3 separate regions of the Homo sapiens genome follow, and all the other regions are reported to be linked to region 2. Evidence: microRNA targets listed by miRTarBase, many of them from high-throughput screens and not tested one by one. Region 2 holds a microRNA gene; each other region holds the end of a gene's coding sequence.
What was found. The annotated mature microRNA hsa-miR-641 reads AAAGACAUAGGAUAGAGUCACCUC and lies in region 2 at 1,647-1,670, opposite strand. An mRNA with a match to its seed (bases 2 to 7 or 8) in the 3' UTR can be bound and repressed. Matches are read on the target gene's strand: a 7mer-m8 pairs with bases 2 to 8, a 7mer-A1 pairs with bases 2 to 7 and ends in A, and an 8mer does both.

Region 1 (3,000 bases), not on the chromosome of region 2:
TGGGAGATGGGGAGGCATGGACAAAGGAAGCATCCGCTGGAGACTCATGGTGAAGAGAACAAATGAAGTAACTGGCAGAAATTATAGGTCCTGGTAGAACAAAATAGAATCCCACAACGAGAACATACACCATGTATGTCCCGCAAGGAAGACAATAGCTCCTAAAAACACAAGAAAAATCATTTTGGGCAAACACCTTATATCCAGTAATGCGATCCATGTATCAAGACCGTGAGGAAGATTATTAAACATGCTAAACTCAGCGAGACCTGATTCCCTCATGAGGACTCTGTTAGGATGAGTACCACTCAGCAAGTGATGACTGTGACATTCACTTTTGAACAGCTCATGAGCATTAATATATTTAATTGTGGATCTAAACCAAAAACCAAGGTGTGGGCAAGATGACAACCACAGAATGTCACTGGTGTATGTTTAGGTTCAAATACGATTATGAGAAGTGGCAGGTAAAGGAGGTAGGAAAAAGAAAACACATCATGTAATTGACTGTCATATGGAAATATGTGATGTTGAAAGTCATAATTTAAAACGTATAAACCAAATATTAGAAGTGTGTCTAGTTCAAAGGGGGGAAAACTATGAAACATTTTTAGTCAATATCAAACATGAGCTACACAACCCTTCCTAAATGCCAGAGGCACACGCAGACACACACACACACACTCTCACAAAGAATATAAATATCTAGAACCAAGAAATGGAGTACATGCATTCTGCTACATATGGTAAACATAGCCTACAAGGTGGAAGAGATTAGAAAATAAACAGGGAAATGAAAATGTTTTTATTAATTCGCATCAGTACCCACCAAAACCAATCAGCATAACAAAAGATTATAACGCTGAATGTAAAAAACAATCCAACAGTCCAGAGTGATAGGCAAAAGTTTTTAATTGTATAGATTAAAATAACTTTGGACAAAAATTAAAACTCAGGCAGAGAATGTTTTTTTTTCAACAACACACACTAGCAAAAACAAAGGCACAGTAAACATTGAGGCAGCAAATTTCCAGCGTAGAGATATGAATATAATAATAGACACAGGCAGGGATGATTAATAAATGATAAAACGTTTAGAGGATGATCACTGGAATACAGGACATTTCTACTTTGAAAAACCACTCTCCCAAATACTTCATCATAAGTAAGGTGTCTCTAAAAGGGACAGATCTCCTAGACCCCTCCTTAACCAAGTAACCAGTCCTGATATCATGATAATGCTGATGGACAAACTAGACCTTCTCTGCCCACAGATGGGCTGAGGTTGGAAACTCACAGTATCGACTCTGTAGTGTTCTTGATGAAACGTTTAGGCTGAATTTAATCATGAAGACATTTTCAGACAACTTCAGAATGTAGACCATTGAGCCAGACAGCTGACCTGTCCTCTACAAACAAGTCCATGTCACCAAAATCAATGACAACAACAAAAAGATGAGGAAATATTTGGGGTTCAAAATAACTAAAGAAATGTAGCTACATTATCATTTACTTCTTCTGAACCCAAAATATCTCTCCTCCTTTTTGTTGTGTGATTCGTGGTGACGTGGACTGTGTGAAGGAGACAGGTCAGTTGTCCTGCTCAGTGTTCTACATTCTGCAGTTGTCTGGTGATTACCTCCTATGAAACTCAGGCTAAGCATTTTCTGCAAGAACATGGCATTGTTCATATTCTGCACTGGCAGAGTCCCAGGTGACATGCTGTCTCTTGCCAGCGGCTCCTGACTCCTGTTCTTTACAGGATGGAATTGAAAGGAGCAGGACTAAGGCCTCCCAATGCTGTTTGTCCGTCTAGCTGTGGTCTTCCTAAGTATTGATATCAATTGGAGGCTGAAGGACTATGGCTTCTCTACTCAAAGGAGCCTAGTGGGTTAACAACTGTCAAGAGCAGTCAGTGGTTCTGAAATACAATCCTCAGCCAAGGATCCCTCCTGTGTTACAGATGGATCAGCTAAAACAAACCAACACTGAAGATACAAAGAATGGGGTTAGGTTCAATGAAACCAGGGTAACACCTTTGGATGAGCTAAACACAAAGATGACACTGACCTTGAGCAGGTATAGAAGCTCAGAGACATGCCTGCAAAATGAAACCCCTGAGGAACTTTGTAGCTACCCAGAGATATCTGGTTCAAATTAGAATGTCTGGCAGATCACTCCCGGCATGTGCTACATAGTCGTGTGAACGTGTCACACCTAACTTGGGTCCAACGTCTTCAGACTGAGCACAGGTGGCCACTGGCATGGTCTGAGAATAGGAATAGAGCCATGCCCACTTTCCCATCCTATGACTGGGCTTCCAAAGGGAACTACAGTTTCATTCAAACCTACATGTGCCTATACGTCCTGCCTGCAGCAATGACATCTCTCAGCTTAGTAAGGGCTGCTTAGTGTGGGAATATGACTCCCATCTGGAAGGCCAGGTGGTGCCTTATCACTGTCAAAGTAAAAAACCTATTGTCCACGTCAAGGGCCAAGCTGACGTCCTGTTCCTCAAATGAGTAAAAGGCACTTCTATACTGCTGGAATGAGGCATGTAGTTGAAAGTAAGTTGAAGTAGTCGAATAACATCTATCCAGTGAGTCCTGCAAGACTTCAGGCTCTTCTGCTTCCATCAGCACCTCGTTGAGCCTGGAAAAGGAGACAAAACTAAAGAAGCAGCCAGGGAAAATCAGACACCACAGAGCCCCAACTAGATTTCAGGGGTAACATAAGGAAGTGGTCAAAAAAGGAAAAGGATAGTTCCATTAATGAGGTAAAAAAATTATTGCCTTTATGTTGGGATAGAACAGGGCCAAGTAGAAAACAATGAAAGAGAAAGACAGAGAGTGAGAGAGAGAGACAGAGAGAGAGAGAAAGTGAGCTCAGTGAATTGGCCAGGTGACACATTGATGAGGGAGTAAAAGGACACTGTGAGTTAGTGCCCTCAGGACACACAGCAAACAGTGATCATGAGAAGAGTGAGCTCAATAGTTTTCC
Region 2 (3,244 bases):
GGCAAGTACACTGCTGTATTCCCAGTACTGATGCAACGCTGGCACATACGAGGTGTTCAGTAAATGGTGGCGGATGAGTGAAACCTTTTCCTCGGCTCCACAATACCCTTAGGATCCATCCTCACCTCTCACCCAGGCCCACAGGCCAGTGCAGCACAGCCCCTGCCAACCCCTGCAGGCACTTCTGCTGCTCCCCCTGCCCAGGCCCAGCCTTCCTGCCACTCCCAGAGCTGTGAGCTGTGGTGGGCTGGGAACCAGGGGCAGTGGCATGCACCTACGGTCCCAGCTACTCAGGAGACTGAGGCAGGAGGATCACTTGAGCCCAGGAGTTCAAGACTAGCCTGAGCAACATAGCGAGACTCCCGTTTCCACAAAAAATTTAAAAATTAGCTAGGCATGGTGGCATGCACCTGTAGTCCCAGCTACTCAAGAGGATGAGGTGGAAGGATCACTAAAGCCTAGGAGGTCAAGCCTGCAGTGAGCTGTGATCACACCACTGCACTCCAGCCTGGGTGACAGAGGGAGGCCCTGTCTCAAAAGAAAAAAAAAAACAAGCACAGAGCCTGACCTCTGAAAAGACTCCAGTGTGTCTACCTTGGAGGCGCTCAGGGCTGCAAAGCCACTGCGTGGAAGAGGAGTGGGCCCGGGAGCTGCCCTTGTCAGTTCTGACTTGATTGCATGTCTCCCCCGACCTCTGTTTCTGCATCTGTAAAACTGAGATGCTAATTTCAGCCCTGATCTCCTCCTAGTGCTCTCTGACACGGTTCTGTGAACTGGCAAAGGCCTTCAAAGTCCCGGCAGAAATACTAAGAATTACAATTGCTAAGACAGACCAACAGCTCACCATGTGTCGGGCACTGTTCTTAGTGAGGAGACATTTCCGGTAGGCTTATTGTATGCCAGAACAGTTATGAATGCTTCCCACAAATTAATCCACTCAGCCTTCACAATAATCCTATCAGGTGGGAATTATCATCATCCCCATGGCACCGATGATGAAATGAGCTCACAAGGGTTGGGGAGCCTGCTCAAGGTCACACAGCCATGGAGTGGCACGGCTGGATTTGAACCCTGTGCTCTCACTCGCTTCCATACACCTCTTTACAGAGGCTGGAAACCAGAACATTGAAGTTCTGGATCCTAGCTGGGCCAGGCTGGGGAGCTGGATCCCGGAATGCTCGAGGGGACCAAAAGTAGGGGGTGGGGGAGGCTGGATGCCTCCGTTCCATAACATAATCATGACTGCCAACCAAGACTTACACAGTACCAGGCACCATTCTAGGAGCTTCTCGTGGATTAATTCATTTAATCCTCACAACAGCCCAAGGTGGACGTCCTTCTGAGACCACTGTATGGGAGTGAACAGTGTGGTCCAAGGTCGCAGAGCTAGAACCGACTTCACCGTCCTGCTGCTAGCTAACGCAGGTCCCTGGTAGCTGTGTCACCCCCTGCATGGCTCTCTTGCTGTCTTCTTCTCCCAGCACACACCTGCCCAGGGTTAAAGGATGCCTTGCCTCCACTCTGAGGAGGGACCAAGAAATGCTGGACTGGCTGTAGGCAGAGATGCTCAGGGCAGCCTGAGGCTCAGGGGTAAGAGGAAGGAAAGACATAGGACAGTCACCTCTATAGGTAGAGGACAGAGGACAGAGGTGACTCTATCCTATGTCTTTCCTTCCTTTCACCCAGCCTGGAACCTGGTGAGCAAGGAATGCATGGCACTAGGGGCTCAGTGACCTGGGTTCAAATCCTACCCTGGCACCCATAGGGTCTGATAAGATGCGGTGGAAGGCAATTCTTCCTCTGAACTTCAATTTCGGACTCTGCAAAAAAGGACACAAATACCATATAAAGCCCAAAGCACAGGGCTGGGCAGAGTATATGCTCACAGACAAAAGCCACTCCTCCAGTTTCTCCTTGACAAGACGATCTGAGGCCAAGGTTGGCCAAGGGCTCACATCACACCTCTCCCACTTCAGCTATGAGACCTCTGGGAAATCTTTGCACTTCACAGTGAGTGAAATGATTCCTCATCTGTAAAATGGTATCACACTTCTAACTAGCTCGTAGCTCTCCATAAAATAGGCCTAACCACAGGTATGTTTTGAGACTTAAGTGAGATCACATGTACAAAAGCCCTGTCACACGCCTGGCATGGGGTGAATGCTATAAACACTGGGCATCCACTAGCTCTGGAAATGATCTGCCTCTCTGAGATGCTGTTTTCTCATCTAAAAGGGAGAGCATAACAACAGCGCCTACCGCTCTAGAATTCAAGTATTCAGCAAGTTTATCTATATGAAGCATTCCAAACAGTGTGTGGCCCACAGAATGCACTCAGTTACTGTCAGCCATCAATTTCATGATTACTGTTTTCACTGCCACTGTTAGCCCCATCAGGCAAACCCTCTAAAAGCTGGCAGGAGAGGACCAGAGGAACAAACCCCTAGTGGAGAAAGATTCTACAGAGTCGCCGCTGCCTCACAGACTGTGGGACCTTTCTCTCCAGGAACCACGAGCCACGGAAGCCAGTCAGCTTGGAAGTCACTGCTGCGGACTAGGGGCAACCATCTGCCCCCTCTGACCACATCACCAGCCCAGGTCTGCTGGGTCAATCAGGGACTGCAGCCAGTCCTCTGGGAACTCCAGACCCAGAGCAAAGGCTACAGGGCAAGCCAAGGTCATGATCTGGCCTAGGGAGCAGGGACACTGGCCACAGACCTCTGGGGCTGGCTGCTCCCAGCACCAGCCCACAGACCACAATAAGACACCAGATCCATGGGGGATCTGACTGTCCCAAGCCCTTCAGAGCAGCCTTCCTCCCTGGGCCAGGCTGGGCCAGGGGCACCCCCACTCCAAGTCCCCTTGGCCTATGCAAAGAGGAACAGCTGGGAAAACAGCTCCCGGCCTCACTGCAAGGCCAACTGTTACTGCCTTGGTGGGGAGTGTAAACATGATGTGTGACCGAGCTGGTAACTGGGAGACACAAACAGCTTCGTGGCCAGCGACAGAGGAGCATGTAGTGGTCTGCGTTGGTTCCTGGACCCTTCACATCCACTGCCAACCAAGTTCAGCCCACGAGTGAACTCCTGCTGCTTCTCTGGGAAGGTAGGAGTGGATGAAGTTGAAAAGCAGCCCATTGGAGGCTCTAGTTACTCCAGCCCAGGCGTCTTGCTGAGCCCCAAGAGGTCTCCAAATGAGAGGAAGAGGTCCTCACAATCCCAAGATCAAGATGCCCCCAGAGAGC
Region 3 (3,000 bases), not on the chromosome of region 2:
TGGTGCCATGGCATGCGCCTGTAGTCCTGGCTACTCGGGAGGCTGAGGTGGGAAGATAGCTTAAGCCAGGAGTTTGAGACCAACCTGGGCAACATAGTTAGACCCCACCCAGGTGATTAGGTCAATTGAATCTGACTTTTGTCAACAAATTCTTCTAATATGTTTTTTAAATGCACAAAATGTCAAAGTTGAGATTTAATGATGCTTTTTACAATTTCAGGATTTACTTCAGATGCAATATGAAGGAGTAGCTGTAATGAAAATGTTTGATAAGGTTAAAGTGAATGTAAACCTTCTCATATACCTGCTGAACAAGAAGTTCTATGGAAAGTGAAGTGCCTACAGAAATTTCTTGGATTCTGTATCATCTGGATTAGGAAATGAATTTGTTTAATATTTTTGTTTTTAAACATGATTGAAATCACTGCTTATAAATGTGTGATTTTTTTAAAACGACCAAAACTGTTCTGAAGAATGTACCCAGGTGCCTTTTTGCTAATTTGATACTATAATAGAATGAGACATAAAATGAATTAATGGAAACATATCCACACTGTACTGTGATATAGGTACTCTGATTTAAAACTTTGGACATCCTGTGATCTGTTTTAAAGTTGGGGGGTGGGAAATTTAGCTGACTAGGGACAAACATGTAAACCTATTTTCCTATGAAAAAAATTTTAAATGTCCCACTTGAATAACGTAATTCTTCATAGTTTTTTTAATCTATGGATAAATGGAAACCTAATTATTTGTAATGAATTATTTAGACAGTTCTAAGCCCTGTCTTCTGGGAGTTATCAATTTTAAAGAGAACTTTTGTGCAATTCAAATGAAGTTTTTATAAGTAATTGAAAATGACAACACAATAACACTTTCTGTATAAAAGTATATATTTTATGTGATTTATTCCTACTAAATGAAAGTGCACTACTGCCTCATGTAAAGACTCTTGCACGCAGAGCCTTTAAGTGACTAAGGAACAACATAGATAGTGAGCATAGTCCCCACCTCCACCCCTCACAATTTATTTGAATACTTCAATTGTGCCTCTCAATTTTTTGTAATGCTAAAAAATCAGTATCTAGATGGTTTTTAAATGTATTCTCTGGAAATTGTTTTATGTAAAATAAATGTTACTTAATTCCATTAATTTGGCTTTTAAGTTGTCTTAATAAATCAAAGTCATTTAGTGGGTAGGGGAAGATTCTTGGTCGGGTTTGTTAGGAGAGAATACATTTCTTGCTGTACTGGTTAAAGTAGAGAGCAAGCTGCTGTAAGGAAAAGATACAAAACCCTGGTGTCTAAAACAAGGGGTAGAAGTTTGTTTTTCTCAAATTCAGCTCAACGGTGAGCAGATCCACAAGGTAAAGAGTTTCCAGGTGGGTCAGTTGGCTCTGTCCTTGTACTGATTCCCCCCAGCCAGATGAGGAAGAGGATGACGAAGAAGTCCAGGGCAAGCCTTTTCAGTTATACGCATCACTTTAACTTCCACTTACATTGTATTGGCCAAAACTGAGTCATGTGGACACAGCTAGCTAAAGATAGTCCCTAACTAGGCAGCCATGTAGCCAGTGAATACAGAGAGGTAGAGAGGGAATTGGGTCTGTTATTAAAAGGAAGAAAAGGAGTGTGATTCCTGCTGACAGTTTAGGAGTCTTCACCACAAAAGGATTCCAGACTCTCAGGCTGGAACCTCCCTGCCACTTTGTTCATGCCTGCAACAGGCTTTATTTTTTCACAAATTGCAAAATATTGAGAAAGTAGGTTAGTTTATGTACATGTGGCACAAATAAACTTGAAGGGTAAGACCAACAGAATTTGGAAAATTCAAATTAAAAAAAGTAAAATCTGCTACTTTAGTGATGGTTTCAGGCTATGTATATTTTTTTGACAAAGAGATGAATAGCTTAAAACAATGCTCACTATCTCAACAGTTTGCGGGTATGTATGTTTTGTAATGCATTAGCCTTAATGCAGGCTTTGGTAGAAGGAATTAAATATACAGTTAAGTTTCACGTTGAAAATAAACCTCCCTCTTGCCCTACTGCTAGCATTGGAAAGGGGAACAGGAGCCAGGGGCAATGAGGGGTGGGCAGGGTAAGCTTCCTTCTTGCTCCGGGCAAGGCTTTTAGTGGAAATGTATAGAAGGAGCCAAAATTAGGGAGCAATGTTTTGGAGGCAAAAGCCAGCCTTTCCCAGCATCTCTGAAAGGAGCTTATCTTAACTTATTGCAACACTGAATGATATGCTTGAATGTTATTTGTACGAATAAAGATATTTGCATCATGTCAATACCTTCAAGGAACGCTGTGAATGATTTCTCTGTTGGCCCACAAGATGAGGTTATTGTTGAAGACATCACCAATTGCTATTTGTGTGAGATCTTTAAGCGGTATGAATGGGTGACCTGAGAAGAAGGCTCATGATGAAGGAACAAAACCAAGGGCCATCGGGGCCTGGGTGTAGCAGACTTCAGTTTACAGAGATTTGTTGGAGCCAAGTCCTGTGCTACTCTTTAAGAGGACTAAACTGTCCCTCAAGCCAGAGGACAATTCTTGATAACCCTGAGCCTGAGCCACTAAGGACTCCAACTTCCTCCCAGAGCCCATAGATTTTTCTTACTCAATGGAAAAGGTTTTTTGTTGTTTGGGTTTTTTGTTTGCTTGCTTTTTTGCTTTTAAACACTGAGCAATTGGAACTATAACTTATTTTTGCAAAACTGACTCCTGTATTTTGATTATTTTGATTATTTTGATCTTAAAAGCAAAAAGTACTTATGCAACACTATAGGTGCTCTCAAAGGATATGCTTTAGTGGTCTTCAGGAGAAGGAAAATATGTGTATGCTTTATTCTGAAAGTTAGTGGTGAAGAAAGACCAGCTTGGTGTGACCGTTGTCTGATATGAATGATCTCAACTATAATTATACGTTAGTGTTTGTGTGTGGTTGGGCACAAATTAGAAATGCTATTCATGATGTGATTTTTATGACTTTGTC

Region 1: miRTarBase lists NBPF3 as a target of hsa-miR-641. Seed matches in the 3' UTR shown: 7mer-m8 at 1,351-1,357.
Region 3: miRTarBase lists IQGAP2 as a target of hsa-miR-641. The part of its 3' UTR that is shown has no 7-base or 8-base seed match.

Annotation. Positions count from the first base shown.
Region 1 is chr1:21,482,795-21,485,794 of GRCh38, reverse strand. NBPF3 (NBPF member 3) reads right to left here. Exons shown (of 15, transcript NM_032264.6): 15 at 895-2,652. The coding sequence ends at 2,409. Among named protein-coding and RNA genes, the nearest start is that of ALPL, 25 kb to the left of the region's middle.
Region 2 is chr19:40,280,957-40,284,200 of GRCh38, forward strand. It overlaps MIR641 (microRNA 641), which reads right to left and starts at 1,685; the gene lies at 1,587-1,685. All of the region lies in intron 1 of AKT2 (AKT serine/threonine kinase 2), which reads right to left.
Region 3 is chr5:76,706,980-76,709,979 of GRCh38, forward strand. IQGAP2 (IQ motif containing GTPase activating protein 2) reads left to right here. Exons shown (of 36, transcript NM_006633.5): 36 at 221-1,153. The coding sequence ends at 334. Among named protein-coding and RNA genes, the nearest start is that of NCRUPAR, 3.9 kb to the right of the region's middle.